2 linked regions of the Homo sapiens genome follow. The protein of the gene in region 2 purifies or fractionates together with the protein of the main gene of each other region. This does not show direct contact. Each region holds a gene or a part of one and is shown on either strand. Other genes may lie near its edges. The genes, in order: SERINC3 and BSDC1.

Region 1 (3,820 bases), on a different chromosome or scaffold from region 2:
AATGACACAGCTCATCACTGGCACCTGATTTTCAGTTCATGATCTTTAATGACTGCCTTGTATGGCAGAGTGGAAAGAACCAGGCTTTGGAGCTGGACAGATCTAAGTTTCAATCTTAGCTCCAACCTCCAACTGGTTAACAGGTCTCAGACAATTTATTAACCTCTCTGCAGTTCAGTTACTACATCTGTAAAAAGGGGATTATAATACACATCAAGTTTATAAAACGCCATTCAGTCTTTGAGAATTAGAAATACGGCTGGGCACAGTGGCTCACGCCTGTAAGCCCAGCACTTCAGGAGGCAAAGGCGGGCGGACCACCTGAGGTCACGAGTTCTAGACCAGCCTGGCCAACACGGTGAAACCCCATCTCTACTAAAAATACAAAAATTAGCCAGGCATGGTGGCAGGTGCCTATAATGCCAGCTACTAGGGAGGCTGAGGCAGGAGAATCACTTGAACCCGGGAGGGGGAGGTTGCAGTGAGCCGAGATCACGCCATTACACTCCAGCCTGGGTGACAAGAGTGAAACTCCATCTCCAAAAACAAAACAAAAAAAAAAAAAAAAAAAGGAGAGAATTAGAAACATAGGTAAAAGGTGGTCAGGAGTCAGAAGCAATAGAATATGTAAATCAGTAGCACATATATATTCACTGACTTTTGTACACTGTTTAAATTTATCAGGTACATGTTTATCTTTAAACAACAGAAAGAAAAAAGTGTGTGTGTACGTAGTATCTAGCATAGTGCTTCAACTATTTAACAGGTGTTCAATAAAAATCTAAGAACATGAAGCAAAGGAATTTAATAGAAGAAAATAAAAAGACAAGACCCCCTATCCCCTCCATGTTACAGCAATCTAACTGAAAATGACATTAAAACAATTTCACATGCATAATAGATCAGAAATGCATCTGAGCCACTCATTTACATATTCCATTGATTTCATCAGAATGGCTATATTAACTGCTGAAGGGAAGGAAGAGCCACACCATAATGTAACCAGTTAATCATAAATCTAACATACCCATTGTGTACTGCCGCTCGGAGATCTTTACTTGTTTTTACTTTGAACATGAGCAGAGAAAAGACAAAGAAAAAGATGGCCATGGCAAAGCTGATCCGATACACAGCTTTATAACCAACCAGCACATCACAATCTTTATCTGCATTTATATCAGCCTCATGGATTTTAAATCCCCCTTCACAAAATCCAGGAATCTGGAAAAAAGCAATTTCAATGTTACGAGAATATCTACATTTAGACAGAGACTCTAACCCACTGCAGGAAAGCCTGGATTTAGAAAATTAACTACTTCAACAACTGCAAGACTGACTATGGAATTTTTCTCTTTGTCTTCCAATTCATTTACAATCTTGTTACCAAACAGTATAAATAACATGCATTTTAAAAATAAAAATGCTCTCTCGGCTGGGCACGGTGGCTCACATCTGTAATCCCAGTATTTTGGGGGACCGAGGTGGGTGGATCACGAGGTCAGGAGTTCGAGACCACCCTGGCCAGCATGGTGAAAACCCTATCTCTACTAAAAATACAAAAAATTACCCGGGCATGGTGGTGCATGCTTATAATCCCAGCTACTCGGGAGGCTGAGGCAGGAGAATTGCTTGAACCAGGGAGGCGGAGGTTGCAGTGAGCCAAGATCATGTCACTGCACTCCAGCCTGGGCAACAGAGTGAGTCTTAGTTTCAAAAAAATATGGTCTCTCTTCTTTGCCCTTTTAGGATGAAGAGGCTGTGTGCCACTTTCCTGTGAGATTTTCCAGCTACGACTGAGTCCTTCCAAAGGTGAAGAACTAGTCCAGTTTAGATGCTTCGACCTTTAACACATAAGGAAAGAAAATGTTTTGGAGCCACCCTTTTAATGTTTTCTCTCAGTTGTTCGACTGGAGCCCAGATGTTCATTCTGTATTTCTGGAAAAGGACTAATGTCCTCATATTTCTGTGTTTTGACCACACCCCCATATAAGTAAAAAATCTCCAAATTACAACCAACTTGATTAACAACGACGAAATAAAACTAGAATTTTGCAGAATATAAAAATAAAAATAACCAATACCTTAAGGGCACTGTTACTTCTTACCTTCTTCAAGTAAGTTTCCATCTCTTTTCTCTGCATGATATAGGATACGACAGTGCTCAGGAGGAGAATGAAAGCATAAATGAGGCGAGTCACCGTGGAATTCTTACTGTTAGGACAGCAACTACACAGCAAACATGAGGCACCGCTGCAGAGGCATGGAACCTGGAATGAGCACACCATGGTCACCTGAGACCGCCTTCAGTATACTCCTTTATGACACAGATGTCGCAGAAGAGAAAGCGAGGCAAATCAGGCTTTATAGTTTTAACTCAGAGAATCATGGCTGGGAGGAAGTGGTTAAAAGTACGGGCTCTGGAGTAAATATTATTTCTGCCGCTTTTTACCCCAGCAAGTTACGTACTCTAACCCCATTTGACCATTTGTAAAATGAGCTCAATAATGGAATTTTCCTCCCTCAGACTCTGCTGTATTAAATGAGCACTCAACACTACCTAAAATGCATTAACAGTTCAATAAATGTTAATTATATTCTGAGAGCATCATTTGTTTTAAAATATGAGAAAAATATAAACCTAACTCCACTTGCTGCTTACTGCGAATCCAAGTTACCAAAGCTGATATTACAACATAAAGCAACATGCCGGGCGTGGTGGCTCACGCCTGTAATCCCAGCACTTTGGGAGGCCGAGGCGGGTGGATCACAAGGTCAGGAGATCGAGACCATCCTGGCTAACACGGTGAAACCCTGTCTCTACTAAAAATACAGAAAAAATTAGCCGGGTGTGGTGGCGGACGCCTGTAGTCCCAGCTACTCAGGAGGCTGAGGCAGGAGAATGGCATGAACCCAGGAGGCGGAGCTCACACTGAGCTGAGATTGCGCCACTGCACTCCAGCCTGGGCTACAGAGCGAGACTCCATCTCAAAAAAATAAAATAAAATAAAAAAATAAAGCAACACTACATGGAAACCCTCTGACAAATAATAACAGCAAGGGCCATTTAGCTCAATTCAAGAGGAACCAGGTTCCTCAGAAAGTTAAATACAGAATGACCATATGACCCAGAAAGTATATACCCGACCCCAATAGCTGTTTTGTTTGAAACTGCTATTAAAACAAAAGCTTGTACACGAATATTCACAGCACCACTATTTACAATCACCAAAATGTGGAAACAACCCACTGTCCATTAATTGATAAGTAAATATGGCCTAAGTAAAAATATGGTATATCTGGCTGGGTGCGGCAGCTCACACCTGTAATCCCAGCACTTTGGGAGGCTGAGGTGGGCAGGTCACCTGAGGTCAGGAGTTCAAGACCAGCCTGGCCAACATGATGAAATCCCATCTCTACTAAAAATACAAAAATTATCCGGGCGTGGTGGCTCATGCCTGTGGCCCCAACTACTCAGGAGGCTGAGGCAGGAGAATTGCTTGAACCCAGGAGGTGGAGGTTGCATTGAGCTGAAATCATGCCACTGCACTCCAGCCTGGGCAACAGAGTGAGACTTGGTCTATCTATACAATGGCTTATTCAGACATAATAGATAGATACATGATAGAACACAGGTGAACCCTGAAAACATCATGCAAAGTTATTTAAAAAGCCAGACATGAAAGGTCACATACTGTATTAGTGCATTTATATAATAAAATATCCAGAATAAGTGAATCTAGAGACAGAAGATTAGGGGTTGAAGGGAAGGGAAATGGGAGTGATGGTTTAATGGGTAAAGGATTTCCCTTTAGGGCGACGA
Region 2 (3,820 bases):
GTTTCCAACCTTTTGTACAAAGTATTCTACTTCCTGAGCAATGATGATGATGAAATTGCAGTATTACAATGCTGCAGTTTATTAAGCGTATGCTGTGTGCCAGGCATTGTCCATACCCTATCTTTTAATCTTCATGGTAACCCTATGAAGGATGTATACTTAACCCCATTTTATAATAAGGAAACTGAGGTTCAGAAAGGGTTTCGGTCTCATGACCAACAAGTGGTAGAGCAAGGATTCAAACCAGCTTTGTCTAACTCCGAAGCTAGTACCCTTTCCACCACTCTACCCATAGGCTCTCTTCCCTGTTGATGTGTCTATGGCATGGACCTTCTCTGGCCAAGTTTTGACCGGCCTGACTGACCTTGAAATTTTGATGAAACAGCCAATCAAAGATCTCTGATCTACACAGGCCTACCATGGCCCTGTTCTGCAGCCCCACTTGGGGGATGGAGGACCCTTGCCTCCTCCCTCTCCTGCAGCCCCAGAGACGGGTGAAGGGTCGTGAGCGCTTCCCTGGTCCCCCAACACACGGTACACCTTTGCCCCAATGTTTTACCCCCATACCCCAGATTGCAGCCTGTTCCCGGGGCGCTTGCTTCCTCTGCCCGTTCTCTATACAGACGGAAGGCTCCTCAGGAGCAACAGAGAAGATGAAGAAAGGGTTATCTGACTTCCTAGGGGTGATCTCAGACACCTTTGCCCCTTCGCCAGACAAAACCATCGACTGCGATGTCATCACCCTGATGGGCACACCGTCTGGCACAGCTGAGCCCTATGATGGCACCAAGGTATTCACTGACAGTCTCCCCTGCAGATGCCTAACATCTGTAACCTGGGCTTTAACTTCCATCCTGTACTCACAAAAGCAGCCCATGTTCAGGCCAAAAAATAAATATGGGTATATTATTAATAGTAAATCAGAAAATACCAGTAAGCAAGGACAGGATAATTATTTTTAAACTCACAATTGCATCACCCAAAGAGAACCCCTGATTTCTTATTGGTATATAACCTTACATTTGTTTTTGTTTATAAACATAGGTAAAGATAGTTTGGTTTTTTCTTCTGAACAAAAAAGACATTTTATACATGCAGTTTTGTAACCTACTTTTAAAAAATCAACAAACATAGCATCTTTCCTAATCATCTTTTTTTTTTTTTTTAATGAGACAGGGTCTCACTCTGTCACCCAAGCTCTCTCTGGGGCTCAGTGGCACAATCATGGCTCATTGCAGCCCCGACTTTCCAGGCTCAAGGGTCCTTCCACCTCAGTCTCCTGAGTAGCTGGGACCACTGGCGTGAACCACCACACCCAACTAATTTAAAAAAATTATTTTGGTAGAAACGGGGTCTCACTGTGTTGCCCAGGCTGGTCTCAAATGCCTAGGCTCAAGTGACTCCCAGCTTGGTCTCCCAAAGTGCTAGGATTACAGGAGTGAGCCACTGTGCCCAGCCAGCCATAATTTTTAATGTCTTTAAATTCTTACAAGTGAATATAGCATTATTTATTCCATTATTTCCTTCATGTTGCATATTTGGATTCCTTTCAGCTTTCAAGCATAATAAGGAACGCTGTGGAGAGCATTTTTAGAGGCATAATCTCCACATTTGGGTTATTTAGACTAATTTCTAGTAATACACGTATAGGTAAGGGGAGAGAGGTGTCTTCAGAGCACTTAAAGCAACAGCCACAGTAGCGTATTTTTGCTGCATTTTCTTTTCTTCTTCTTTTTTTTTTTTTTTTTTTTTTGAGACGGTCTCACTCTGTCACCCAGGCTGGAGTGCGGTGGCATGATCCCAGCTCACTGCAGCTTCAACTTCCTGGTCTCAAGTGTTCCTCCCACCTCAACCTCCCTAGTATCCCTAGTAGCGGGGACCACAGGCGTGCACCACCACACCTGGCCTTTTTTTTTTTTTTTTGTAGCGATGAGGTCTCCCTATTCTGCCTAGGCTGGTCTCAAACCCCTGGGCTCAAGTGATCCTCCTACCTCAGCCCCCTAAAGTACTGAGATTACAGGCGTAAGCCACCGCGCCTGGCCACATTGTATTTTCTATTTCATGGAGTGTTTTCTTCTAAATTCACAATATAATGTCATGGCAGTTGGGCCCTCTTCGTAGTTTTTTTGTTTGTTTTTTGTTTTTTGTTTTTTTTTTGAAATAGGGTCTCCCTCTGTCCCCCAGGCTGGAGTGCAGTGGTGCGATCACAGCTCATGGCAGCCTCGATCTCCTAAGGTGCTCCTCCCACCTCAGCCTCCTGAGCAGCTGGGACTATAGGCACACATCACCACGCTCAGCTAATTTTTATGCTTGTAGAAATAGGGTTTCCCCATGTTGCCTAGGCTGGCTTTGTAGCATTTTATCACATTGACTTCTGTTTTTTTTTTTTTTTTTGAGATGGAGTCTCTCTCTGTCGCCCAGACTGGAGTGCAGTGGAGCAATCTCGGCTCACTGCAACCTCCACCTCCTGGGTTCAAGCGATTCTCCTGCCTCAGCATCCTGAGTATCTGGGATTACAGGCGCACATCACCATGCCCGGCTAATTTTTGTATTTTTAGTAGAGATGGGGTTTCACCATGTTGGCCAGGCTGGTTTTGAACTCCAGACCTCCAGAGATCCACCTACCTTGGCCTCCCAGAGTGCTGGGATTACAGGCGTGAGCCACCGCACCCGGCCCACATTGAACTTTTGTTCCAAAAGTACTGATTTTTCAAGTATGTGTTTTAGCACTAGCATTAGCGCCACCACTTAGTGAACATGTGAGTGGAATTGTGAAAATGTTTGATAAGATTTTGAGCTATAACGACAGTGAATTATCACCAGACCGCTTACACATAGCCCATGCTTCCTGCAATACTGAGGAAGAAAGGTGGACTTTGTCTTTGCCAGCTAAGTTTGCCACCCTGTGATCCTAGTGGGAACGTAACTTGGTAGAGACTGGCTATACAATTAATAAATTCTTGAGTGGTTTTAATTTGAGGGAAATTGTGTTATTTTAAAATTTGTCCCTAAATTTTGACTTTATTAACATATTGGCACTAACATTTTTCAAATTTTACTTACTACAAAGCATTTTATACAAATAATTTTGTAGCCTGCTTATGCTGTATTTTCTTAGTTCTTGGGGTAGAATACTGGGTGAAAGGCCATTTTTCTGGGAACCCCAGTTTTGGATGCCTAGCCTAGTGCCCCACTCTCTGTGCCACAGTGCTAATTAACAGATGCCCTGGGGGTATCCCAGCCAACAAGGGAGAAGCTGGATTGTGGTTGACTGAGTATCCTGGCAGAGAAAGGGTGCTTTCTATGCCCAGTATCTCAGAATTTCTGTTTTCCTCTTCTCCTTTTCTTACAGGCTCGCCTCTATAGCCTGCAGTCGGACCCAGCAACCTACTGTAATGAACCAGATGGTGAGAGGGTAGCACTGAGCGGGTGGGCTTGTAGGGCAAGTAGACTAAGGGGGCTGGGTTGTAGACCCTGTTTGTCTCAGGTAGCAGAGGCCGGGCACCCCCTATGTAGGGAGACCAGAGTGAGACTAGTGTGTACCTTATACTTTGTGGGGTGGGTGGATGTTCTCTTTTCTTTCCTGAACTTGAGCTGTCCTGCCCACCCTGCAGGGACTTGGCCCCTCTCATCCCTCATCCTCAGCTCAGCCTCCCTCCCAGCCCTGCTGCCCCCCTTGCCTTCTCTTCAGCTCCTGTTAGCTAAGCCCCTGCCATGCAGCAAACCCCATTATGGGAACTGGAGATCAGAAATGAGCCAAACCCTCCACCTAGTCCAACCCTCCAGGAACTGGCAGTTAAGAGGGGGAAAGCAGAAACAG

What was found.
Region 1: the proteins of BSDC1 (region 2) and SERINC3 fractionate together in Homo sapiens (co-fractionation; one large-scale study listed by BioGRID). This does not show direct contact.

What each region holds. Positions count from the first base shown.
Region 1 is NC_000020.11:44,511,774-44,515,593, forward strand, and holds part of SERINC3 (serine incorporator 3), read right to left. Parts: intron 2,268-3,820; coding exon 2,106-2,267; intron 1,222-2,105; coding exon 1,028-1,221; intron 1-1,027.
Region 2 is NC_000001.11:32,380,801-32,384,620, reverse strand, and holds part of BSDC1 (BSD domain-containing protein 1), read left to right. Parts: intron 1-572; coding exon of another isoform or gene 573-623; coding exon 624-791; intron 792-3,352; coding exon 3,353-3,407; intron 3,408-3,820.